4 linked regions of the Homo sapiens genome follow. The protein of the gene in region 3 interacts with the protein of the main gene of each other region in a biochemical or structural test. Each region holds a gene or a part of one and is shown on either strand. Other genes may lie near its edges.

The links.
Region 1: the proteins of BMP4 (region 3) and RGMB form a complex in vitro, tested with the Homo sapiens proteins (one study listed by BioGRID).
Region 2: the proteins of BMP4 (region 3) and ACVR2A form a complex in vitro, tested with the Homo sapiens proteins (one study listed by BioGRID).
Region 4: the proteins of BMP4 (region 3) and TWSG1 form a complex in vitro, tested with the Homo sapiens proteins (one study listed by BioGRID).

The regions. Positions count from the first base shown.
Region 1 is NC_000005.10:98,768,947-98,776,684, reverse strand, and holds the start of RGMB (repulsive guidance molecule B isoform 1 precursor), read right to left. Parts: upstream 3,023-7,738; 5' UTR 2,733-3,022; coding exon of another isoform or gene 2,615-2,732; coding exon 2,479-2,614; exon of another isoform or gene 1,496-2,478; coding exon of another isoform or gene 1,483-1,495; intron 1-1,482. UniProt on the Homo sapiens protein: Member of the repulsive guidance molecule (RGM) family that contributes to the patterning of the developing nervous system. Acts as a bone morphogenetic protein (BMP) coreceptor that potentiates BMP signaling. Promotes neuronal adhesion.
Region 2 is NC_000002.12:147,840,306-147,848,057, reverse strand, and holds the start of ACVR2A (activin receptor type-2A isoform 1 precursor), read right to left. Parts: upstream 3,030-7,752; 5' UTR 2,906-3,029; coding exon 2,851-2,905; intron 1-2,850. UniProt on the Homo sapiens protein: On ligand binding, forms a receptor complex consisting of two type II and two type I transmembrane serine/threonine kinases.
Region 3 is NC_000014.9:53,949,230-53,953,848, reverse strand, and holds the end of BMP4 (bone morphogenetic protein 4 isoform a preproprotein), read left to right. Parts: intron 1-448; coding exon of another isoform or gene 449-573; intron 574-1,619; 5' UTR 1,620-1,626; coding exon 1,627-1,996; intron 1,997-2,960; coding exon 2,961-3,817; 3' UTR 3,818-4,113; downstream 4,114-4,619.
Region 4 is NC_000018.10:9,393,745-9,400,773, forward strand, and holds part of TWSG1 (twisted gastrulation protein homolog 1 precursor), read left to right. Parts: intron 1-2,535; coding exon 2,536-2,802; intron 2,803-5,601; coding exon 5,602-5,783; 3' UTR 5,784-7,029. UniProt on the Homo sapiens protein: May be involved in dorsoventral axis formation. Seems to antagonize BMP signaling by forming ternary complexes with CHRD and BMPs, thereby preventing BMPs from binding to their receptors.

The sequences.
Region 1 (7,738 bases), on a different chromosome or scaffold from region 3:
ATGATGGGAGCGAAGAGGGCTAAATAGAAAGTGCGATTGGGTCAGCATTTTCAGCTGCCTTGTGGGCTTCTATATAATGACTAATTTGTAGCATACACCCAGAAATATCCAGGCTTCATGAATTTATAACGACAACGCACACTTTGCCTGTTATAGGCGGTAAAGTAAGCCTCCTGTCAAAATGCCAAGACAATGCGGAGCAGAAACAATCTCAAGGATGTAGCCAAGAAGGCCATGAAGTGTATGAGTAAGCAAGTAACTCCCATATTGGATCTCTATTCAGGAATTGCAGAGGTTTGCTTAAAAAAAATAAAATAAAATAAAGCAACTAAAGGTACTCTTTTCATACTCTTTTCATTCCCCAAGGGCAGAATTAAAACTCTGCAGCTACAGATTTCTCTATTTTTGGGTCAGATTATCTGTGATCAGTGTGACAGTATTTTCACACCAGTTACTGAACATGCTAAAGCATTTGTGGGTCTAGAGCTTTCATTTCATCATTTTTGAATGAATCAGACATAAAGACCTCACCATTCAAGACAGTTTCTTTAACACCAGGACTACACGTGTGAATCTGCAGCACAATCACCAGTTTATAATAAAAGAAATGAGGTATTCTGAAGCTGAATTAAGTGAAATGTGGAGCCATATGGGGTGCTGAGGCAGATGATAAGGATCCAGGCATAAAACATATAGTAGTCCATCTGCAAAGAGCACTGGCACTCTTGCTGGGTTCCCTTATCTGAGAAACAACCCGGGCATTTAAATAGCACCACTCTTCAAAGAAATCTCTCAAAAGGAGCGTTCTTTTCTTTAACAGGATTAATCGCTTCACTCCAACAAGTTGTCCATAGAAATCGCTTACCACATTGTTGGGCTGAATCTAATGGTGACTTAAATGAGGACACATGAAGATACTGGGAGCTTCACATTCCAAATTCTTGAACGAAGACACCCTACTTTTCTAAACCTTTAAGCCAACTTAGTATGCCTTTCACGGGCTAGCAAAGAAACCTTCAGGGACCACATTCCAATTCTGTCACAGGATCCTATGGCAACTATGGGAAACAATATCCAAGCAGCCAAGGGGGACACAATCCCACCTAGCACAATTTCCATTTCATGAAACTTACATTTTGGTATTATGGACACATATTTTTCGCACAAACACTCCTGAATATATCTTTTAACATGTCAAGAAAAATTTTCCACGTAACTACATGCAGATTGACACTATTTTCTAAGGTTCTTAGGTTACTAATTGAAAGCCGTAATCATCCTAAAACTTTCTATTACACTTTTTTATTAAGCCGTCTTTTCCCTAATTGTCGGTGTTAAAAAGCAGCTATTACATCATAATGCAAAGCTACGCAAAGTAAATTAAGTCTCCTCAGATGTCACATTTTCCCCCCCATTACTTAAAAGACCTCCCTGATTTTTAGCATGGCGGGTATGGTTTAATAAGTAAAAATTACTCCGCACAGTTGGGTGGCATCGAAGTTCAGGATTCTCCAGACCAGAACGTTGTGAAGTGTCTCATATATACAGGACAAAAAAGGTCTGGAAGGAAAAGAAACTTATCTAATGCTGTTTGTTCTCAAGACTAAAGGAAAATGACCCTTTCAACCTTAGCATTAAAAAAAATTCTTTGTCTAGGCAAATTCCTAGAAAAAAATAGTGTGAAGAGCGTCCTGGATTTTCATGAAACGATTTTTTAAAAAGAAAAATAGGTATCACATGGTAGAAGGCTCATTTGCAGGCTTACTTCCCTTGGAACATACGCCTCAAGGCTGGGGAAGCGCCGACCTCCAGAAGGCAGCATGGTTATCTGTCAACCCCTCACGGAGCCCGAAGACACCCGGCTAGTCACAAAACACGAGCTTTTCCCGGGAGGCTGATCGCTGAACAAACGCAGCTTTTGCCAAAACGAAAGAAATCCCTGCTCAAAAAAGTTGACGTTACTTCGAGATTAACTCCCAGGTTTGCAAAATCTGGTAAAAATCTTTCCATCTGGTGTACTTCCTTCGCCTCGCCGCCACCCCCAACTCCAGAAAAGCAGCACAAGGCTCCTTGTCTCCCTCCGAGGCGGCTGCGACGGCGGAAACCTGATCCGAGCCTGACTTTCAGTAAACACCAGCGCAGAGAGCAATAAAGCATCCGGAACATTTGTCTCGGGCGCGCGGCCCCCGCCCGCTAAATGTTTGATAAGCGGCTGTCGGAGGGGAGATTTGTCAGCGGTCCGAGCCGAAGGCGGGGAGGGTGGAGAGAAGGCTCGTCTCTGCGCCCGGCGGCCGCCCGGTGGGTGGCTGCGTTACTGTGGCCCGGAGCCCGACAGAGGTGCGTGTCAGGGGCTCGGGAGGCCTTTCCCGTTGCGCCACGCCGCCCTTCCGCCCCGGCGAGCGCCTTCGAGACCTGGGGCTATTTGGGAACAAAGCCCTAGGCCCCGGGGCTGGCTCCCCTCGCGCGCTCCCGTCCTACCTGCGTGGAGCAGCCCGAGGCTGAACAGCAGCAGCAGCAGCAGCTCCAGCGGCGGGGGGCAGAGCCCGGGGCTGCGGCGCTGCTCAACCTCGGCGGCGGCAGCGGCGGCGCTGGAAGGTGCTGCTCTCAAGCCCATGCCCGTCCATGCAGGTCTCGTGGGCTCCGGCGAGGGCGGCGGCGCGGGCGCCGTGGCGGGTCTGGGCCCGTGGCTGCGGCATGGGCCGGGGGGCGCGCTTCGCTTCCTCTTCTTCCTTCTTCAGGCCCGTGTAGCAGATGGGGCGCCACCACCGCCGCAGCAAGCAGCGCGCAGCCGGCGCAGCCAGTCCGCGGCGGCAGCAGCGGGGCGCAGGGGCATCGTGGCGGCCGGAGGCGGCAGGCAGGGAAAGGGGCGGAAGAGAAGACACAAAGACCGTGAGCGACTGCTGAGACGAGTCCCGAGCGCGCCGGCACCCCGGCCCCAGCCAGCGTGGGCTCGGCGGGCGTGGACCTCCAAGAGGCTGGCCCAGCCCTAGCGACCACCCACCGGCGGCCCGGATATCTCTGCGCGGCAGCCCCCGCGGTCGATCAATCTCAGTCCCGCACTGCCGTCCCGCCCCGCCCTGTGCCCGCCAATCCACGACGCCATAATCCCCCGCCGTGTCCCTCCCTTCCTCCCCATTGGTTGTGACCGCACGTCAGCCCGACTCAGCCTGCCAATCGCAGGACCCAGAGGGCCCTCTCCCCCGCCCGCTCAGTGTAATTCGAGTTCCCTGTCCATCGACTCCAAGTCCTCTCTCCTGCGCCGCATGCTGCCTCGCGCTCCCTTTCCTTCCCCCTCTACCCCCTTCCGCGATTTACTGTTTCCTCGCGCCCAACAGAAATGGGCGACCGCAAGTCTTACTCTCGCCGGCGTTACAAAGGTACCGGCCTTTGACCTCTCCTTGAATTAATGTGATCCGATTCATCTTCCCTCCAAGTTTTTTTTTTAATTTAATTACCCCTCCCTGCCCTGGCCCTGCCAGCTTCAGCTCCACCTCCTTGGAGGAAGCAGGCGCTTTTACAGAGCGCCGCGCGGCAGGTCCCCTTTCAGCCAATCACATCTGCGGAACCGCGTTCCGAGTCGTTTGAGGGTGTCTGGTAAAGCAAGCTCGGGGCGGTGTTGGAAATCTGAATGTCACCCGCGGTCCGGAGCAGATAGGATGGGCTGGGAAGGTACCCGCGAACTGCCGCCGGAATTCGCTGGCAGCTGTGCGAGGCTCAGGTGTTCTAGTTTGACATTTCCCTTCCTGAAAGCGGCAAGGAGAGGTCTAAGAGTGGGCAAACTTCAACGTTCGGTTACAGTGTAATTAATGAGAGTGGTGGGTTTTTATGCAGTGTAATTATGCCACGATTTGTTGTTGCTCAGTGGCTTTTTCACAAATTTCTACAGATTATTTAAATTTTCCACAAATTTCTACGGATTAATTCAATGGCAGCTCACTTTCTCCTTTTATGATCGGATGGGTCCGAAAGTGAGGAAAAAGACAATTGTCTACAAAGAAAGAGGCTGCCAAGTGGAGACAGAAAAGCAGTTATGAGACTGATGATAGATTCCAATTTGTTATCGGTAGGTGTGAAGTGGTATCTAATCTCAAGAATGACCTCAAGGCTGAGAGACACTTGATACCGCCCTCGCCTTTGCCTTTCCCCAAACAGCACAGGGTTGCCATTTAAAATCCACTAACATCCAAATCGTAGTTGGCAACTGTACCCGCTATGTTACTCAGAATCTCTAATTAGGAATTTCTTATCAACCACGGACATGCTGATATTCCACACATGTTTAAATGAGCTAATCAATGGACTAGGATAATTGAGGGGCAAACCTTCAGTCTCACCAGCTCACTTATTAGACACATTTTGAATTGCCCAAACCACTAGGTCCCTAATGAAGGATGCCTATCTGTTTTTACTGTAACTTTTCATTACTTACTTGTTACATACTATGATGACTTAAGGGGTAAACACACCTTTCACTATCCACAATATAATCCAAGCCTGTGTATATCCATAATACGCTTAATAATAGCTTCACAGTTGCCTGGAGAAATGACTTTTGGGGAGGAAGTTATATGACATTTTTAGATAATGCTGCGGACTAAGTATTATTAGAGCAAAAATTTACTATCTTGCAATTACTTCATATAATTAGATACAGTTCATGACATACTAAGAAGCATCTTAAAAAAGTAATCAAACATAATACTGATTTTCAAAGTATTTGGCTAACAAAGACTACATTTTTTTCTCTTAACCCAAGATTTAATTCGACCCCTATAAAAGCAGCATCTCACTTTATTGATCATACTTCAAAGCATATACTCAATAGTTAAGGATCAATAATTTCTGTTTGGTTTGGGTCTTTCCACTCGTGACTTTCTATGATTTTTTACTCCCCTCCCCCTATATCCTGTTCCATAAGTACACGGGTGCTCTAGATTTTCCTATCAATAGAGGGCGTCCTCGAGTCATTGCAAATCCTGGTGTCGTTAAACGGAACTGTTCTTCAGAGGAAAAACTTCATCTCTATAAGGTGCTTTATTGCTCCTCTGTTGTAAAATTTGACAAGCTCGAGATTTATAAGCCTAACAATTCACTTTTTATTGCTGCATAAGTGTTCAGCCGCTAGAGGAAAATGCTAATTTTCACAAGTAAACCGCAAGGTGGTTCCTATTTTCAAGACATAGGTCAGTTGACACACTCGCGGGTAAATTCGTACTGTTCACAAGATCAGGAATTGGCTTGGAAAGCAAGAGCGTAGTGAATAGTCGCTTATACCGCAGCCACTCCTCAAGCCCGTGAGCTGCAAGTTACAAACGACTTTATATTGTACAAAGAAAAATCGGGGAGGGAGCTAGAACACAAACAAAAAAATCGGTGACTTATAAAAGTTTTATGTTTTAATCAGAAAAAAAATCATGAAGTGGCTGATGACTTGTGTAATTCACACATCCACCCTGTTTCTTGCCACTGGTACTCTTTCTCCCTTTCTCTTTGTTTTCAGAAAGGAAGGAGGAGACCTGAACAGTACATCCGGAGAATCCAGCAAAGCATACTACGGCATGAACGTGCAAGTGGACAGAATTAAAACACATGCCAGAAACACTAATGGATTCTAAACAAGATGCAGTTTCATTTCCTGAGCCTATACGTGATGTTTTTAACTGTTCTCCAGTTAATATGTCTCCATTTCCAGAAATCTAACAGGAGAATCTCTGACTGCTTAACAGATCACCTAAGCTTGCGATTTGTGCAATCCTTTCTAGAGTAAGGGCTCCCCGGCTGCTCCCCGGCCACTGTGTACCCAAAGCAGCGGCTGAAATAGCCCGGAGTCCAACAGCTCAGCGTCAAGCAGCTCGTGGTTTGTACTTACATCATTTTTTTTTTCAGAGCAAGAGTGAAAGTTTATTAAAAAGCGTTAGAACAGTAAGGAAAGGAAAGGAGAGAAAATAAGGAAAGTACAACTTGGAAGAGGGCCAAGCGGGCGACTTGAGAAATCAAGTGCCTGTACTTACATCATTCTTAACCCTTTCGCTCCTGGAGGGGGCTCAGCGGGATCAGGGGGCCCCTGAACTTCGGAACACGCAGGACCTGGGTGTGAGAGAAGAGTCCCAAAGCTTGGCGTGAGCAATGCACTCGCGGAGGGAGAGAGCCCGGGGCTTGCGGGGGGCTCATCACCCGCTCGTAGACAACGGGCCCCCGCAATCCCTGCGGGCTCCGCCGCTGCTCTCACCGCTCAAAACGGCAGGTGCAAAAAGCATTTGGGAGCCGCTTGCCAGCGCGCGGAGGTAATGCGCTTCCTGTCCATTTATCTCAGGAAACCAGTGCAGCCTTCCCTTCGAAACAAAATTAACCTCTCATTAGCCAGCCACTCGCTCCCAAGAAGGCCTTAAAAGCTTTACCAGCTCGCTAATGTATTTAGGCTTTTCTTCCAGGCAAACGCAGCCGCCGGTCTTGACTGCCATCGCCCAAGGGGTTCCTCTGGGCTCTCCCGCGAGCCAACAGCCGACCTCTCTCCAGCCTAGTCTGGGAAACTCCAGCCAACCCAGGATCCCATTTTGTAGTCCCGGGCAGACCCGAAACCCCTGAAAGAACTCCACTCCAGAAGACGCCAGAACAAGTTCCCACGAATTTCATGGGCGCCCTTCACATGAAAACCTCAGCTCCCCTATCCTCAAGGAACGGGGAAGGGCGCCGGGGAGGGACTTCGGTGGCCAGCTGTCCCTGGGTCGTGGGCGCTGTTTGCTCTGCGGAGCGCCAGCCCTGCACACAGCGGGTGCGGGAAGCGTTGATGGGAGGCTGGAGGGCGGGGTGAGCGTAAACTAGGATCTAGCCGGTTCCAGGCGTGGAGAATCAAATGTGGTCCTAGATCTGTAAGTTGCGAAAAGGGGCTTTTGGGAGCGTCAGAGCTTTCTCACTCCGGTCCCCCGCCGCCTTGAGGCTGGCAGATTTATACCCCACAGGTGGATGGAGACCTAAACAAAACAGTCCCGGCCGCTGCCTGCCGCTCGCCCCCCACGTCCCCCGGGCCCACCGCAAACTTCAACAAAATAAACAACTCACCACAGGCATTCCCTTGTCTGCAGCGCGACGCTTGCCAGCTGGGAAAATAAGCCGCAAGCCACGCGGCCGAGGCGCGGAGGGAAGGCAGCGCGGCGCCCGCCCCTCTCCCCCAGGTGGGGGGCAGCGCGACTCGGGGCGGGAGGGAGGCTCCGCCTCGGGGGCCGCTCTCCCAGTTCTCCGACTCCAGAATGAGCTCTGGGAGAGGAGCTGCGCCCTTCCAGCTAGCCCGATTTCTCCGCCATCTAGGGGAGAGGGCGGGGAGCCAAATCCCTCAGCCCCCCGCACCCCAGCAGCTTCCTCCAGGCAGCTTTCTCCCCAGTCAGCCTCAAATAGAGGTGAACAGAGACCCTCCTCTCCCCCCGGCAACCCCTATATCGCCACACTGCCCCCTGCCGGCGCTATCCGGCTCATTCCGGCACTGCGGACGGCTGGGGGCGTGGGGGCGTAGGGGCGCCGCAGACCCCCGCGTCCAGGTCCTGGATCAGTTCTCTCTTCGCCTTCCCCCCACCACACTCAATCTTGCACAAAGACGCCTTTCACGCCGCCAGCGCCACCCTCCGCGCCGCCCTCCGGGCCGGCGGCGCTGCCTTCGCCCACCCGCGGCACCAGCCGATTCCTGGTGGGCGATTGTGCCACTCGTCGCCAGGCAGGGCGGCAGCGGACGCGTGCGGGCTGTTCC
Region 2 (7,752 bases), on a different chromosome or scaffold from region 3:
CTGAAGAAAACATAATTACCATATTTCCATTTCCTCTTTCATCAAATACATTGACCATACTGCTCCAGCTCCCACAAAATCCAAAGGAATTCTCAACTTACTTCTATGCAACTCAAATACCACAATAGCTGCATAACTCTAGATAGGATAAATCTAAGTACTAAAGCAAGTATTAAAGTCATTCTCATACTTCAACAAACTGTGGGGAAAGACACAAATAAACCACAATGCTATAAAAAGAAAACTAAGATTTATGTTTTGAAACAGAATCTGAGAAAGTATGAGAGGAATGAAAAAATTCAAAATCAAAGGTAATCTGAAGGCACTCCAGGATAGGGGCAAAATTTAAAATGTTTCCCCTGGAATGAGAGAGAGGAGGAAATTATACACTTGGCCATATCCTACAGGAATAGTCTGCATAATCAGTCTCCAGAATACATACCATGGGATGGAAACTGAAAAATCAGAGTCCACGAAATAGTAAACATCCCTCCTAAACACCTGGAACAAAACTGTTCCTTACTATTGTTTCCCATTTTGATTTTTAAAAAAAATCAAATATCTAGAAATGAAAAACTGACAACCTGAGAATTTTTAAAATTCTCATAAAAATAGTCACCTCATGCTTCCAACATGTCAGATCACACATTTTGTAGAAAAATCAATTAGTTGGAGAAACATAATAATCCTTTTTTAGAGTGCATCTGATCCATAACAAAAGGCTTTTAAAAATCAGACATTTTAAGTACTCAAATTGTTCATGTATAAATATGGATTAAGGTCTTTATGATTATTTCAATTATCTTCAACAGAATCACATATTTTAGTTCAACTGGGAATGTTCATCTTAAAAAGCCTATGCAACAACATAATATTAGTTTAATATAAGTGGAATATCTATATGCCCTACAGCAACAAAATCACTTTATTTCAAAATTATAGCTATTAACCTCCTGGCCCACTGAAAATAATCCTGGCCCAATGAAAATAATCCCACAAGAAACTAATGCTCAATTATTTTTACTACCAAACCAAGCAGAAGAAGCTGTAAGATCTGTAGCGACAGCCTGCTTTTCAAGAAGTAATACCTTGAGACTGCTCAAGAATAACCTCCTTCATCAATTAGTGTGACTCAGGTGGGTTTGAGAGGGAATAATGTCCACAATTCCTTGGTCAGTGGCCATGATGCCCCTCCTCCTCAAGGGCAAGAGATCAGAACAAGGGATTTGAACAAGAGGAGTTCACCAGCCACAACATATAGAAGCAGAGGAAAAAAGAGTACTACTGGAAAGATAAAAACTACATGGTTAAGTCATGTCACAAAAGCAAGAGGTTTAATGTTATCAAGGCCTTCATTCATTTCAGACACACCATTGTTTAGCTTCCTTCCCAAACCGTGCACAAAAAGAACTGTCAGCCTGCCTTAAGCATGTTCCTTCTTCCATTTAAACAGACATGATTCTTTTGGTTAATCTCTGGCAATGATCGCCATTTCACAACACATTCAGCCCACCCGGAACTGATCAATACCACTACAGACATAAGACTAGACTTTATCCATTTATTAACCACAAGGAAATGTACCATTCAGCAAAATTCTATACATTACAAAAGATTATATTTAAAGGGGGGTGGGGAAGACGGACACAAACACACAAACACACACACACACACCCCACAGAGGTACACAAAGAAGACTACCACCCTTTAATTTTCCTGTGGCAAACGAGATAAAGACATGGCCATGAAACCTGTCAATTCGCCCCCGTTTCCAAGAGTCCCCCGTAATTCTATGCCACAAGCTTGTAACTGAATATTAAATTTTACAATAAATAGATCCAATGAGACTTATTTAAAATGTTTCATCTATTGAACTAACTCTCCTGTTATGTACATCTGCACACCTTTCAGCTAGATGCTGTATTTATTTATAGAATTTCAAATACAAAAGACTAGATAGTTTTTCCAACCACTGGTTGCAACCATAGAACGTCCTCACAAAATCAAAATTTCCAATATAAAATGGCCCGTTTATTCCCCCAACCTTGAGCTAAAACCTATTTTATGAGTGTACTATATTTAACAAAAACAATTTCACATGGGTTGTTCTAAACCGAAAACAATGCTTCAATACAAAGCGTTTAAAATAAGTATTCCGTAGGTAAGCAAAATCTATGCCCCAAAAGAGCACACAAATGGTGGTTGAACGCCAGCACATTACCAATACCAAGCGGCATACCTCTTCTGCACTGGGTTATAGTTAATACTCCAACAACAACTACAACTATTTTTAACACTGCTGGACGCTGAAGTTGAAGAAAACGTGAGGGGAGACCCAGATTAAATTGCTGATAGGATGTATTGTTTCCCACAGCCAAAATTAAGCAGCAACTGGCTTGATCTATGTCGTGATATTCACCGGTGAAGCACTAATTAAACGATGACAAAAAGCAACCCTTGTTTTGGAGGAGCCCACACTAAATACTCCTTTCAGATCTCAACCTTTGCATAAATTGTCACTTGTGGTATTTGCGGCTTAATTGCAACCCAACCAGCGCTGTCATCCAGTGTTATGGCCACAAAACATGACTTTCTCACTTCCACAACAACACAGCACTCACTCTTATCAGCTCGCCGACCCAACTCAAAAAGAGAAAAATGCATGGAGGTTTCCAGATCACAATCAGACCTGGGGGCGGGGGGGGGGGGCGGTGGCAGCCGAGGGGCGCAGGGAGTGGGCAACCTCCCCAGGCTCCACTGGACTCTCCGACTCAACACCAGCCGCGGCCCCCAGCAGCGGCCGCCGCGGCCGCAGGAGCAGCCCCACCGCGCCGCGCTCCCTGCACCTACCTGAAGAACAGGAGATAAGAAAGACGGCAAACGCCAACTTTGCAGCAGCTCCCATTTTCCCGAGGCGCCGGGGAATCCGGAGGAAGTTCTCGCTAGATATCCAGTTCCCTGGGTCTTCCTCGGAGACAAACCTCCTGGTGTAAAATCAACCGTCATAAAACATATTCGGAAGCCCAGACCAAAAAAAAAAAAAAAAAAAAAAAAAAACGCTCACTGGGTTAAAAAAAAAAAAGAAAAAAAAGAGCACAACGATAAAAAATAAAATGCACCACGGGGGAAAAACCGCCACACACACGCACAACACACAAAACCAAACAACGAAAAGCCAACAACAACAAAAGCGGGTTTAAATCACTGTCAAAATCACTGTCAGCTCCGCTCGCCTCTCCCGTCTCTCGGAACAAAACGCCAGGCTGAGGCGACGAAGAGGCGGCGGCGGCAGCGGCGTCCGCTGCCGCCCGGACAGTCTGGGAACTGACTGGGTCCGATGTCCGGACCGACCTTCAACCCAGACACCTAAAGTCCGAGGACCACTGGCGGCCGAGCTCGCGGCGGTGGCGGCGAGGCGGCTGCGGCGCGGGGAAGGGGCGGCGGGCGGCAGCGGCGGCGGCGGTGCAGGCGGCGGCCAAGTTCTGGTCCAGGCTCTGGCTCCAGCTCCGGGCTCCGGGCTCGGCCGCGTTTTCGGTCTCCTGGCCTCCGCCGGGCTCCGCCCCCCAAACTTCCGGTTCCGGCCCGAAGCTGGAAGCCAGGCGCAGCGGAGGAACGCTCGGCGGCAGCGGCGGCGGCGGCGGCGGCGGCAGCGGCGGCCGGGCGCAGCGCGCGTGCCGGGCCGGGAGCGCGAGGAGATTGTCGGGGAAGCGAGGCGGGAGCGGGGGAGGGGTGAGAGAGCGAGGGCGGGGCGGAGTGGAGGGCGAGGAGGCGGGGCGGACGGAGGCTCGATACCGCGAGGCCTCGGCGTCCGGCCTGCTTGGGCTAGAGATACCGCGACAAAGGGGCGCGGGCGCCTCAAAGTCCCTAAGCTGTGGCTGGGCTGTGGCCGGGCGAGTAGATGCGGGCTAGGCCGGGCACGACCCGTTTCCAAATCGCGTCCGACGGGCCTGTCTGGAGCGCCCACCCAAAGGGTCAGGAGAAGCCCAAGAGGAAGAGGACCCCGAGGTGGGGCGAGTGGCCAGGGACTTCTCCAAGGGGCGTCTGCGGCGCCCAGTCTTTCCTCTGGGGGGACGCCTCGTCCGCTCTGATACCGAGGAGTCGGTGGAAGGCGGACGTGGGAGCTGTTTCGCCGCGCCCGCCGAGCTGCCCAGGCGAGCTCGCGACGCGCGAGCTGGTGTGTGCGCCCCCAGACTTAGCACTGCGTCCCACCGCTGCAGCTTCTGCACACGCGTGCTGTCTTGGTGACTAGAAAAGAAAAAGAAAAAACTCACGGAGGAAGGGCTGTCCACCCGCTCAGGATATTCACGCCATTTATCACGATGCGCAACTTGAATCCATTCCCGCCGTTCCTTTTACACACAAAGCATTGTGTTGAAAACTGTTTTGCACGTAATAGGTGCGCAAATACTTGTTTACTGCGCTTTGAAGAAAAAAATGAGGATTTCGAACGACATATTTGATGATCAGACAAGTGATTACTTGTCAAAATTTTAGCTATTTAAGGGCCTGTTTTTACCCCTTAATCCATGTCGATTGCTTACAAGCTGGTGTGCTAGGCACGGAATGGGATCCAACAGGTAAAAATAGGATGGATCCCTACCTCAAGTAGCTTTTAGTATTTGCTGTATTCAGTTGGTTGCAGAATACAAACTAGAGACTATTGAAGGTAGTTGCTCTGTCATTTACCACACTTTAGTGAGCTTCGTGAAGGTAGAGATCTTGATTTTTTCCTTATTTTATTCCAGCACCCAGAAGTATCAACTAGCACATAAGTGCTTAATAAATAATTGTATAAATGACTAAGGGATGACTGCCTTTCTCTTAAATACAGTCTCTGTTAATGTACTCTACAAAGTTTTGGTTTTTAATAAAACAACTGTATAATATGGCTAATTCATGTTTCATTTGTGGTTTACTGATTCCCACCTTTTCCCACAAAGCCAAGTCTTCTCACTTATATTTACAGCAGTTTACTTCCTCTAAATTACTCTGTATTTCTGTCTATTAAGTTCATCCTGTAATTATCTGCCCATTTCTACAACTTATCAGGGTTATTAATAATCAACGTGGCTCTTTAAATCTCTCCAAGATTGCCAGTTCTCAAATCGTGATGCTCAGAATTTGACTGATGTTGGAACAGTTACAAAGTCCCAAGTCGGTATTAAAGGTGTCTGAATGATCTCATGTAGTTCTCCTATCTTTATGAGTTGGTCAAAGGAATATGTGTAAGCCTTCCATTTTCTGGTTGAATTAAGAGTTGTACTAACGGTTCTGGAATGGAAGAGTATATTTTACTCTAGAAACACTTGAAGTTCATTAGAGAATTTGATGTCAGTTAGGGTCAGGCCCCACTCTTGTCTTATCTGTGCATCACTTCAGTATTTCTTTAATTGTGAAGCCTGAGCAAGTGGAATAACTGGAATAGCGAGTAATACAACTGAAACTTGTAAATATATTCCTTATCTTACCAACTAAATTTGCCATTATAAGAACGAGAGCATGAAAATTATTTTTCTGTAGTACTAAAGAGAAGCAGCCAGTCTTCACGAGGACATTCCTTTCTAACAAAGACAGAAAACCCCATGGGAAAAGTATTAACAACCAGTAACGCAGCTATTCTGTTCCTAAATGTGTTCAATTACCCCTTCGTTTTTTTTTTTAATTCAAAAATAATGTAACCTAAAAAGACAAGGAATTGTGACTAATTTCCACCGGAGCTTCAAAGCTTAAAAAGAGGTAGCTACAGCTAACCCCATTGCCCTTCTTTCCTCCTTGTTTTCTAGAATCACTTTTTAAAATCCATAAATCCAACAACCACTTCCTAACACATTGCAAGGTGTAAAACCTGGTTTGGGAAGGAAAATGAGAAAGGAGAGGAAAGGAAAAGGAAACATGAATTCTAATCGACCAGAGCATCGGGCATTATGAGATAAACATCTTTAGCTAACTTCATTCACTTCCCAGCCCCAAGACCTAGCCTTATGGCCACTCCAATGCTAGAATTTGAAGTTCAGAGTCCTGCCAAGTTCAATTGAACTGAAAATTATTCCCAGGTGGAAGAATCTTGAGAAGCCAGTTCAATCTAGAGTGTTGGCTGGATGAGGAGGTAGAGGTAAATAAGTGACACAGACTGCTTCCAGAATAAAAGATTTCTTTTTGTGTTAACAAAGTCATGGCTCAAAAAGATGTGGAGAAGTTTAAATCTTCAGTTCTGAAGTAGAGCTGGAAATGAACTGGGTTATAATTGAACTTGCGTTTGGACCCACCAACAGACACTTCAGCAACACACGTCTAATCTCTTTTCCTTCATCTTCAGGAAGATGACTGAAAACCTTTGGAGTATGGAGGATGTTAAGTTCCCCTTAAATGAAGGACTTAGAAGCTTTCGTGCTGCTTTCTAGCTACTATAAAAATCTGTGTTCAGATGACATGGGCATTCTTGAAGTGGCACAAGTAACGAATTTCTTATATGCCAACGCTGTAAGGCATAATGCATGGGGAATAAATTTGGTAACTTGGTGAGTCCAAGGAAGGGAGAAATGATCGATGTATCTTTTATAAATATCCCCCTCTCCTTAAGTGCCCAAGGTGGGAAGAAAATTCTCTACATCCTAGCTTTTGCTGCTATTTATTCCTCCCCTTCTACTTAACGTCCATCTGTATAGCATTGCACTGTGCCAATGGGGTCAAAAAGACATATCGAGGAGGATAAGAATGTGGGAATGGATAAGGGGAAAAGTGTTAAGACAAAAGATTTTAGGTGAAGGAGAAAGTGAGTTAGAAGAGTTAAGAGAAACTGTGATGTAATATAAATCTCAACATCCCAACATCCCAAAGGTAATATTTGACTTTTTCTCCCCACTATCGCCCCCTTCAAAATTCAAGAAATGTGTAGGAAACAAAACTAATAGGCATAATTTGGCAAGGATTCTTTCCCACCCTCCACTTTAAATTCATTACCACAGGTGCTTAATTTTCTTGAACAGGTGCTAGGACTCAATTCCTCCCCAGGCTGATAACCACAGTGCCTACGCTAACACTACTGAGCAACTGTCAGAACCCACACCCCCAAGTGGTTCCAAATTATGGCGTTGCTGATGCTCCCCCATTGGTGGGTAGGAGGTGGGAAAGGTGTTGGTTTGGACAATAACTAGTAAGGGTGATGGCACTGGTTTTTAGTGTCCTAGGACTAGGATACTAAATACTCTGCAGGAGGTTGGGCATTTAGCATACCCGACAAAGAATAGTTCAGGATTTGAGATCTATTACCTTAAACCAATATCAAATGGAAGGATGATGGAGTAAACCTGCACTACTCAAAGTGTAGGTCTTAAGCCAGTGCTGGTCTCAAAAGATTTGTTACTAATATTTAATGAGATATGTATGGACACAGACAACAATTGTTCACAAAGTTTTGTAGAAACTTGATAATTACGTCTGTTGAAACTATAAAATAATTGAGCTTATATTTTATTGTTTTAATTTCAAGTGTTTTGTTTTTTGTTTTTATTTTTGAGATAGGTCTCACTCTGTCACCTAGGCTGGTGTGCAGTGATGCAATTACCACTCACTGCAGTCTTGACTTCCCAGGCTCTGGTGATCCTCCCACTTTAGCTTCCTGAGTAACTGGGACTACAGACGTGTGCCAAACATACCGGGCTAATTTTTTTTTTTCCATTTTTTTGTAGAGACGGCGTTTTGCCATATTGCCCAGGCTGGTCTTGAACTCCTGAGCTCAAGTGATCTGCCTAC
Region 3 (4,619 bases):
GAGACTTTCCCGACCTCGCTCCCGGCCCCACTTAAGCCGGGTTCGAGCTGGGAGACGCAGTCCCTTCAGTGCGCCCCAAATCCTCTGGCTTCAGGTGGCCCGGCGCGGGGGCCCAGCACGACGCACCGCGCCGAGAACCGGGTTCTCCGTGCGCTGCGCCAGTAGCCCTGGGAGCGCGGCGGCCGCGGGGCACCGGCCGAGGGCTCTGCCGAGCGCCGCCGGGAGCTCCTCCCGGACCGCTGAGGCTCGGGCGGCGGGCGCGGAGGTTGGCCTCGCCTGGAGGGGCGGGCCCGCGAGGGGCGGGGGGCTGTGGAGGAGGGGAGGGCGCGCAAGCCCTTTCGCCGCCTGCCGCGGGAGGGGCCTCGGCGCTCACGTGACTCCGAGGGGCTGGAAGAAAAACAGAGCCTGTCTGCGGTGGAGTCTCATTATATTCAAATATTCCTTTTAGGAGCCATTCCGTAGTGCCATCCCGAGCAACGCACTGCTGCAGCTTCCCTGAGCCTTTCCAGCAAGTTTGTTCAAGATTGGCTGTCAAGAATCATGGACTGTTATTATATGCCTTGTTTTCTGTCAGTGAGTAGACACCTCTTCCTTCCCCCTCCCCGGAATTCACTCTGCCCTCACCACCCCTGCTCGCCGGCTGTCCCTTCCGTCGGACCTCCTTTACAATATCCACACTCTGCTCCCTGGCAGCACTGTCGCTCCCTTCTTGGCCCGGCAGCCGGGGCGCTGGAAGCGTACGGGTTCCTTTTAAAGTGCTGCTAGCGCGCACTCGCCCTCTCAGCGTTGCAAGAAAGGGGAGCGCGAGGGAGCTAAAGAGATGAAAGCCCGGGGTTGTACCTTGAGGGCTAACCACTCCCTTCCCCTATCCAACTTGTCTGGGAGAGCCCCCAGTGTCTCCGTGGCGCGTTCCCACTCTCTTGTCAAAACTCACAGAGGTCTCTCCGGAATCGTCTCTCACCCCTTCCCTGGGGATGAGCGGGCACGATCAGGCACTTTTGGCTGAATATTTCAAACTCATCGGCCACAATAAAATAAGCCCTCAAGCCACCCGGTTAGCTCCCAGACCACCTTCTCGGCTTCTGGACCCTGTCGCCCTCTGTCTTCGCCCAGCCCCTGCCTCTCACTTTCCCTCCCTCTGGCTCTGAACCAACTGGAAGTTGTGAAAGTTGGGCTCTGAGGGTGGAGGAAAAGGGAGAGAAGCTGAAGGTCTAAAGTGGAGAGCAATGCCATTTTAATTCTCCCTCCCCCACCCCTTTTCACCCCCTCAATGTTAACTGTTTATCCTTCAAGAAGCCACGCTGAGATCATGGCCCAGATAGCAGTTAGGACAAAAAAAGATTAACAGGATGGAGGCTATCTGATTTGGGGTTATTTGACTGTAAACAAGTTAGACCAAGTAATTACAGGGCAATTCTTACTTTCAGGCCGTGCATGGCTGCAGCTGGTGGGTGGGCGGGTGGTGTGAGGGAGAAGACACAAACTTGATCTTTCTGACCTGCTTTCCATCTTGCCCCTCCATTTCTAGCCCTAAATGCATATGCAGACACATCTCTATTTCTCCCTATTTATTGGTGTTTATTTATTCTTTAACCTTCCACTCCCCTCCCCCTCCCCAGAGACACCATGATTCCTGGTAACCGAATGCTGATGGTCGTTTTATTATGCCAAGTCCTGCTAGGAGGCGCGAGCCATGCTAGTTTGATACCTGAGACGGGGAAGAAAAAAGTCGCCGAGATTCAGGGCCACGCGGGAGGACGCCGCTCAGGGCAGAGCCATGAGCTCCTGCGGGACTTCGAGGCGACACTTCTGCAGATGTTTGGGCTGCGCCGCCGCCCGCAGCCTAGCAAGAGTGCCGTCATTCCGGACTACATGCGGGATCTTTACCGGCTTCAGTCTGGGGAGGAGGAGGAAGAGCAGATCCACAGCACTGGTCTTGAGTATCCTGAGCGCCCGGCCAGCCGGGCCAACACCGTGAGGAGCTTCCACCACGAAGGTCAGTCTCTTCCCCCAGTCTGCGTGGGGGAGGGCTGGTGGGACTGGCTAGAGGGGCAGTGAAAGCCCTGGGGAAGAAGAGTTCGGGTTACATCAAAGCCCCAGTCCAGGAGGCTGAGGAACAGAGCTGCTTACCTCCAAGAATTTGCAGAGCTGCCGCCGAACTTATTTTTTGGAGACAGAGGGGGAGGTGTTCAGGGGAAGGGGAATGACAGCACTCAGACGTGGGCTAGCCCCAGCGGTGTGTTTTTGCTATATCAAAGCCTTTTCTGCTAGGTTTTCTGCCCGTTTTTTTCAAAGCACCTACTGAATTTAATATTACAGCTGTGTGTTTGTCGGGTTTATTCAATAGGGGCCTTGTAATCCGATCTGAATGTTTCCTAGCGGATGTTTCTTTTCCAAAGTAAATCTGAGTTATTAATCCACCAGCATCATTACTGTGTTGGAATTTATTTTCCCCTCTGTAACATGATCAACAAGGCATGCTCTGTGTTTCCAAGATCGCTGGGGAAATGTTTAGTAACATACTCAATAGTGGAAGAGGGAGAGGGTGGTTGTCTGCATGTTTCCTCCTGCCTGTGCTCTGTTGGCCCCTCTTTTTCTTTACAACCACTTGTAAAGAAAACTGTGGACACAAAGCCAAGGTGGGGGGTTTAAAAGAGGAGTCTGATTGTGGTGCCATAGAGGAGTTGACACATAGAAATTATTAGACATATCAAGGAGGCTGGATATAGTTTCTGTCTTTGGTGCTTGAGAAATGCTAGCTACATTTTGCTGGTTTGTTAGCTGCCCCACTTATCTGCTCCTTCAAATTAAGGGGTATGCTTATTTTCCCCCAGTAGGTTTCCCCTGCATAAGCAGAATTCACCATTCATTGCCCAACCCTGAGCTATCTCTTGACTCTTCCATCTTTGAAAAAAGTTCATATGCTTTTTCTTTTCCCCTTCCTTCCTAACTGTGCCTAGAACATCTGGAGAACATCCCAGGGACCAGTGAAAACTCTGCTTTTCGTTTCCTCTTTAACCTCAGCAGCATCCCTGAGAACGAGGTGATCTCCTCTGCAGAGCTTCGGCTCTTCCGGGAGCAGGTGGACCAGGGCCCTGATTGGGAAAGGGGCTTCCACCGTATAAACATTTATGAGGTTATGAAGCCCCCAGCAGAAGTGGTGCCTGGGCACCTCATCACACGACTACTGGACACGAGACTGGTCCACCACAATGTGACACGGTGGGAAACTTTTGATGTGAGCCCTGCGGTCCTTCGCTGGACCCGGGAGAAGCAGCCAAACTATGGGCTAGCCATTGAGGTGACTCACCTCCATCAGACTCGGACCCACCAGGGCCAGCATGTCAGGATTAGCCGATCGTTACCTCAAGGGAGTGGGAATTGGGCCCAGCTCCGGCCCCTCCTGGTCACCTTTGGCCATGATGGCCGGGGCCATGCCTTGACCCGACGCCGGAGGGCCAAGCGTAGCCCTAAGCATCACTCACAGCGGGCCAGGAAGAAGAATAAGAACTGCCGGCGCCACTCGCTCTATGTGGACTTCAGCGATGTGGGCTGGAATGACTGGATTGTGGCCCCACCAGGCTACCAGGCCTTCTACTGCCATGGGGACTGCCCCTTTCCACTGGCTGACCACCTCAACTCAACCAACCATGCCATTGTGCAGACCCTGGTCAATTCTGTCAATTCCAGTATCCCCAAAGCCTGTTGTGTGCCCACTGAACTGAGTGCCATCTCCATGCTGTACCTGGATGAGTATGATAAGGTGGTACTGAAAAATTATCAGGAGATGGTAGTAGAGGGATGTGGGTGCCGCTGAGATCAGGCAGTCCTTGAGGATAGACAGATATACACACCACACACACACACCACATACACCACACACACACGTTCCCATCCACTCACCCACACACTACACAGACTGCTTCCTTATAGCTGGACTTTTATTTAAAAAAAAAAAAAAAAAAGGAAAAAATCCCTAAACATTCACCTTGACCTTATTTATGACTTTACGTGCAAATGTTTTGACCATATTGATCATATATTTTGACAAAATATATTTATAACTACGTATTAAAAGAAAAAAATAAAATGAGTCATTATTTTAAAGGTAAATCATGATTTTTTTTTTCTCCTTAATCCTTTCTCTTTTCCTTCGGGCTCATCTCTTTTGAATGAGGCTTTTTTCTGTTCAGGTGAGTTGGAGGCTGGATGGAAGTCAAAAGGTGGTACCTGGAGGTGGTTAAGTTGTAGGGACAGGAAGTAAACTGTTGGCAGAGAGAGATGGTAATTGCCAGCATGAATTGTTTTCTATTTCTATTTAATGTTAACAAGGATGCAGTATCCTCTCCCATCTGGATGACACATGCCTTGGAGAAACACTGGGATGAAAGGAGTGTAGGTCAGATTAAAGACTTCATTTCAGGCCCCTTGTACATCTTCTGTTTCACTCACCTGTTGAGGTGTATCACAGCTGAGCGTGATGAGGTCTCAACCCTAGAAAAATGATACCCACCTCTGCTTTCATGATACCTCAGGGTATCTCCAGTTATTACAGGTACCAATGTGATATTTCCAAATCAAAACTAATTTGTACACTAACATCATAATGTGTGTGTGAA
Region 4 (7,029 bases), on a different chromosome or scaffold from region 3:
AAGACAGAGTCTCACTATATTGTCCTGGCTGGTCTTGAACTCCTAGCCTGAAGCAGTCCTCTCACCTCTGCGTCTCAAAGTGCTGGGATTAAAGGCATGAGCTATGATGTCTGACCTAAAATTATTTTTTAATAATTCATTTTGAAATAATCTCAAATATAGAGAAATTTGCCAGAAGGATAAAAAGATTTATATTTTCCCTCACCCAGATTCCCCAGTTATTAATACAGCCACTATGGAAAACAGTATGGAGCATCCTCAAAAAACCACAAATAGAACTACCATATCCAGCAATCCCATTACTATACATTTATGCTAAGGAAAGGAAATCAGTATATCGAAGAGACATCTGCACCTCTGTGTTTATTGCAGCAGTATTCACAATTGCCAAAATGTGGAGTCAACCTAGATGTCCAACAACAGATGAATGCATAAAGAAAATGTGGTATTTATACTCAATGGAATGCTATTCATCCACAAAAAAGCATGAAATTCTGTCATTTATGCCAACATAGATGGAACTGGAGGACATTATGTTAAGTGAAATAAGCCAGGAACAGAAAGTTAAACACCACATGCTCTCGTTCTCACTCATATGTGGAAGTTAGAAAAAAGTTCATTCCATGCAAGTAAAAAGTAGAACGGAGGATGGTAGAGGCTGAGAAGGATAGGAGGGTAGAGGGAACAGGAGGATAGAGAGATATTTGTTAAAGGATATAAGATTACAGCTAGATAGGAGGAATGAGTTCTCTAGTGTTCTCTAGTTCTATAGGATGACTATAGTTAACAATAATGTATTATACATTTCAAATAGCTAGAAGAAGGATATTGAATGTTCCAACACAAAAATGTTTGAGATGATGGATGTGTTAATTACCCAGATCTGATCATTATTCATGATTGTATTGAATCATCACTGTAACTCATAAGTATAATTATTATGTCAATTTACAAAAACATTTTATCATTGCATTTGCTTCATTGCTCAATACCCTTCCTCTCCCTACAGACACACACACATGCATGCATGCACACACACGCACGCACACACATGATCATTCATGTTTTTTTGAATCTTTGCAAAGCAAGCTTTACAAACAATGTCCCATTACCACTAAACACTCCAGTCTATATTTTCAAACAACAAAGATATTCTCCTAAAAATTGGCATACAGCCCTCCAAATCAGGAAGCCAATATCAATATAACATTGCTACCCAATCCACAAACCCCATTCAGTGTCACCAGCTGTCCCAGTGGTACCTCTTCTTTCTTTCTGGCCCAGTGTCCTATCCACGAACATGTGATGCGTTTAGTAGTTATGTTTCTTCAGACTCATTCAATCTGAAGCAGTCCTTTAGTCTTTCTCTTGACAGTGTTAAAGAGTACAGACCTTGATTATACAGGATTTCCCTCAGCCTTGATGTGCCTGATGTTTACTTGTGACCAGACTTATGTCACACATTCTTGGCAACATCACCACCTCCCATCACTGGTGATGTTAACTTTGATCTTCTGATCATATTGGTGCCCGCCAGACTTCTCCACATTAAAGTCATTATTAATGACCTTTTGTAAGTGATTAGTATTTTGTGGAGAACTTTCCAAGAATACATCAGTATATTCTTATCTAACAGTCACTCATCAGACTTAATATCCATTGACCATTCCCATCCGAATCAAACCCCTGTGATAGTGCCAAATGGTGATTTTCTGTTTCCTTTCTTCTACATTTATCAGTTGGTAAGGAATATCATTCCCTTCTCTTGTATTTATTTATATATAAGAACTTATTGATTCTTGTTTTGTTTACAAGATGGTAATCCATGTTTATTGATTGATTGATTGATTGACATGGGGTTGCCCAGGCTAGAGTCCAATGGTACAGTGATAGCTTACTGCTGCCTTATCTCCTGGGCTCAAGAAATCCTCCCGCCTCAGCCTCCCAAGTAGCTGGGGCTACAGGCATGCACCACCACACCCAGCTAATATTTTTTATTTTTTGTAGAGATGATGTTTTGCTATGTTGCCTAAGCTGGTATCAAACTCCTGGGCTGAAGTGATCCTCCCACCTTGGCCTCCCAAAGTGCTGGGATTATAGGCGTGAGCCACTGCGCTCAGCTTATTATTATTTTAATGCTCAAATTGTCTATTAGCCAGTAGGAGCCCCTTCAGTTGTCCTCCTGTGTCTCTTCAGCATGTCCCATCATTCATGGTGCACTTCCTTACTTTCTGGCACAAATGTGTTCCTGGCTCACTTTGTACTTTCCTGACCCAGCCTTCAAATCAGTCTTTCCTCCAAGGAGCTCTGGTTCCTATTATGTATTTAAAAAACAAGATCTGAGCGTTCAGTATGCTTGAAGCTACTGGGGTAGAAGAATATCATCATTTAGGCTCACCCAGCAAAAAAAAAAAAAAAAAAAAAAGGTAGGAAAATATCCATGTGTAATCCTAGAAGTTACATAATTTTAATGTGTTATAGCTCTGATTGCAAGGCAGTAACTAACAAAATCTTATGATATTACCCCCAACCCAGGTATGTGTAATCCTCGAAATTATAGTGACACACCTCCAACTTCAAAGAGCACAGTGGAGGAGCTGCATGAACCGATCCCTTCTCTCTTCCGGGCACTCACAGAAGGAGATACTCAGTTGAATTGGAACATCGTTTCTTTCCCTGTTGCAGAAGAACTTTCACATCATGAGAATCTGGTTTCATTTTTAGAAACTGTGAACCAGCCACACCACCAGAATGTGTCTGTCCCCAGCAATAATGTTCACGCGCCTTATTCCAGTGACAAAGGTAACTGCCAACAGTTGACTTTTTCCATTCCGCCCCCTCATGTGGTCTGTCCATGTAATCTATAAAACCTATATAAGACCATCTTTTGGAGCAGCCTTTTGGTTTTGAATTTGTATCATCTCACATAAATTCTAGACTCAATAACCCTGATCCCATCATATCTAGAGGCACATGCCAGAAGGATAAGAGAAAAAAAATATCTCCAATCCTTGAGTAGATAAAAAGGCATGTCGGCTGGGCGTGGTGGCTCATGCCTGTAATCCCAGCACTTTGGGAGGCCGAGGCAGGTGGATCACGAGGTCAAGAGTTCGAGACCAGCCTGACCAACATGGTGAAACCCCATCTCTACTAAGAATACAAAAATTAGCCGGGTGTGGTGGCGGGCGCCTGTAGTCCAGCTACGAGGGAGGCTGAGGCAGGAGAATTGCTTGAACCTGAGAGTCGGAGGTTGCTGTGAACCGAGATCACACCACTGCACTCCAGCCTGGGTGGCAGAGCAAGACTCCGTCTCACCAAAAAAAAAAAAGATAAAGAGGCATGTCAGCATATTGTCAGAATTCCTCCATACTCCTGGCAGCAGAGGCTGTACTGTATTGGAAAATAGATAATTGTTCCTAATTCTGGTATTTATTTGTGCTAGGCTTTATTCTGTTCATAAGATAGCAACAATGCTGCTTCTCTAATAAAATATTGCTCATTGTCAGGTGACATTCAGAGTATCCCATGAAGTCAGATTTTTATAATAGCACCCGTACCAAAATGATGCCAAAGTCATTAGCTAAATTTCTTTATAAGCAAGTTGGTATTCCAGACATCTCATTTCCAGGCATAAACTAACCCCAGCCAGTTCTCTGCAAATGGGTGCTGTTGGTCAGAAAAGGAATTAAGTGAGAAAATAACTTATACAAATTACAGAAGCATATTTAAGAGCATTTATTAGTGAAGATAGGTCATATCATAATTTTGGAATGTAAAGAGCATGTGACTTTTATAAAATCTTTGATATTTTTTGACAAAAGGCACCATATAATTTTACTGTGGAAGCATAAAGCACTTATGAAAATTGCAATTATTTCTTAAAACATGAGGTGAATTATGTATAAATAGTATAATTTGTACTCTTACTTGACTATTAGTTGTGCCCTCCATTACATTCCTACCTATATAAAACAGTGCGGGCTGGGTGCGGTGGCTCACGCCTGTAATCCCAGCACTTTGAGAGGCTGAGGCGGGCACATCACCTGAGGTCGGGAGTTTGAGACCAGCCTGACCAACATGAGAGACCTCGTCTCTACTAGAAATACAAAATTAGCTGGGCGTGGTAGCACATGCCTGTAATCCCAGCTACTTGGGAGGCTGAAGCAGGAGAACTGCTTGAGCCTGGGAGGTGGAGGTTGCGGTGAGCCGAGATCGCGCCATTGCACTCCAGCCTGGGCAACTAGAGCAAAACTCCATCTCAAAAAAAAAAAAAAAAAAAAAAACCAAGAAAACAAAAAACAGTGTGAGCTTCGAACATTAATAGTAAAAGGCAAAACAGCTTCTGTTAAATGACAGTGTAAGATTTCTTATTCCCTTTTAGGTTAAAGTACTTTGTAAAACAAATGCTAGATTTTGGAAAACATTAGAAACATATGGAATGCAATAATAATATGTTTTGTTATCATTTTCTCCATTATTAAAATGTAAGTAATCAACATAACAGATATTAAATAATAATTCATAAATTTTGCTCAAAGATTATTTAAATTTATGAAGCAATTAGCAAGAAGCTAATTCCTGGAAACTCCAGCTGTCTTCAAGACACAACTAAAGTTTTTTCTCTGTGACATCTTTCCTGGGCACCTATTCCCCCAGATAGAGTCAGTCTCTTTCTACTGCTCCTCCTGCATTTGCAGGTTTTTGTTTGTTTGTTTGTTTGTTTGTTTTTTGAAATGGAGTTTCACTCTTGTTGCCCAGGCTGGAGTGCAATGGCGCAATCTCGGCTCACTGCAACCTCTGCCTCCCAGGTTCAAGTGATTCTCCTGCCTCAGCCTCCCGAGTAGCTGGGGTTACAGGTACCCACCACCATGCCCGGTTAATTTTTTTAATTTTTAGTAGAGACAGGGTTTCGCCATGTTAGCCAGGCTGGTTGCAAACTCCTGGCCTCAGGTGATCCACCTGCCTCGGCCTCCCAAAGTGTTGGGATTACAGGCTTGAGCTACCATGCCTGGCCTGCATTTGCAGTTCTGTTTGTTGTCTGTTTTTAACTTATGGATCTATCATTTTCTACTTAGTTCTGTGGATTCTCTGATTCCTCTACTAAAAATATAAAAATTAGCCAGCTGTGGTGGTGCATGCTTGTAATCCCAGCTACTCGGGAGACTGAGGCAGAGAATCACTTGAACCTGGGAGGCGGAGGCTGCAGTGAGCCAAGATCACACCACTGCACTCCAGCCTGGGTGGCAGAGTGAGACTCCATCTCAAAAAAAAAAAGGAAATGCCCAGTTTAAAAGCACAGCTGTATAACATAGCAAATGTTTTTAAGCCCAATAATCCAACTTTTCGATCAAAGCCTGAAATCTAATAAAAGAAGCTAAGGAAGCCCTTTGCCTTCTTCAGATGGAGTGGGAGAATCTGACTTCCTTCTCAACATAATTAATAAATGAAGATCTTTTTTCCTGTACCTCATCTTTGTCATGTACAGACCAGTAATAAGAGAACCAAGATAAATAACTGTTAATATTCAACTAGGTAATAAAGCATTTTATTTTTTTGTTTTTCTTCTTTCTTGCCCTGAAATCTTAAATTTTTGTTTTTCAGAACACATGTGTACTGTGGTTTATTTTGATGACTGCATGTCCATACATCAGTGTAAAATATCCTGTGAGTCCATGGGAGCATCCAAATATCGCTGGTTTCATAATGCCTGCTGCGAGTGCATTGGTCCAGAATGTATTGACTATGGTAGTAAAACTGTCAAATGTATGAACTGCATGTTTTAAAGAAGACAAATGCAAACCAAAGCAACTTAGTAAAATAATAGGTATAAAAAGTTATTCTGTAAGTCTGTTGGTTGTATCTTGTATCAGAATCCCAGTAAGTTAAGTTGTAAAGACTTTGGAATAAGTTTCTTTTAAAAATATGACATAGCCAGTGATGTGTTTAATTATATAACTGTTCTTACTGATTTTATTGCCCCCTAGCAATAAGCCCTTTCCTTTGAATACATGTACAACTTTGGTCATATGAGAAGCAGGTGCGCAGAGAATTCCTTGAAAGATCTGAGGTTTTTAACATGAAGTCTGACGTGGTTTTCCTCTAGCATTCCAAAAGGTTTTTGCTTTGAAAGTGTTAGCAGAAGCATGTTGATGTGAATTATGATTTCTTCATGTGCTACTGTTAGCACACTGAGTTTTTATAGTTGCACATCATTCCTCATTGTGCCTTGTTTTATCCATTTTATAAATAGAGTAGATATTTGATATACCACTCTGATAACTCATATAAAAATATCATCATAAAAAGCTTAATTTCATCCCTTTTATGTTGGTTTTAAAAGGTAAATGCTTACCATATTTTATAATTGAGAACTCTTACATAGTAGAATCCATTCTATAATACATGTGTTGACAAAGCTTTAGAGAAAGTTTCCTATTCTCTTCCATTTCCCCTGCCCAAAGTGCTGACATAGGCAGTGATGAAGAATCTTTACCAAGATTTTCAGGGTGTACCTATGAAATTGCTTTAAATGCACTGCTGGTGTAAATAATTAGCAAGCAAAGCGTTTCTGTGACTTCAGGTACCAGCTTAAAGAGCACTAGGGATGGGGAACGAATGCCAAATCAGACTCCACCTAGAGCACCAGGAAACAGCTTGTACCCTGGTAGGGAAATGGTGTTGCTGAAAGGGGAGGCTGAGCCAGTGCGAGACTGAACTTGTGCAGCCTTAGCCAAGACAAAGCAGTGTTTTTCAGCAGACGGCTGATGGGACAGGAATTGAAGAAGAGAATTGACTCGTATGAACAGGACAGGGTGAAAATGCTGGGAATTATTATGGGAAACAAAACTATCTATGTTCATATTTTGTAATATTTCATTTGTTAAGTTTATATCTGGATATAATGTTCTTTTTAAACAAGTATAATCATATCGTCGGAGGTTAAGATTATGAAATTTTAGAATCTCTATTCAAGATGATGTTCACTCCAAATACACTACAGAATTTAGTCAACATTTTATATAATGTTTC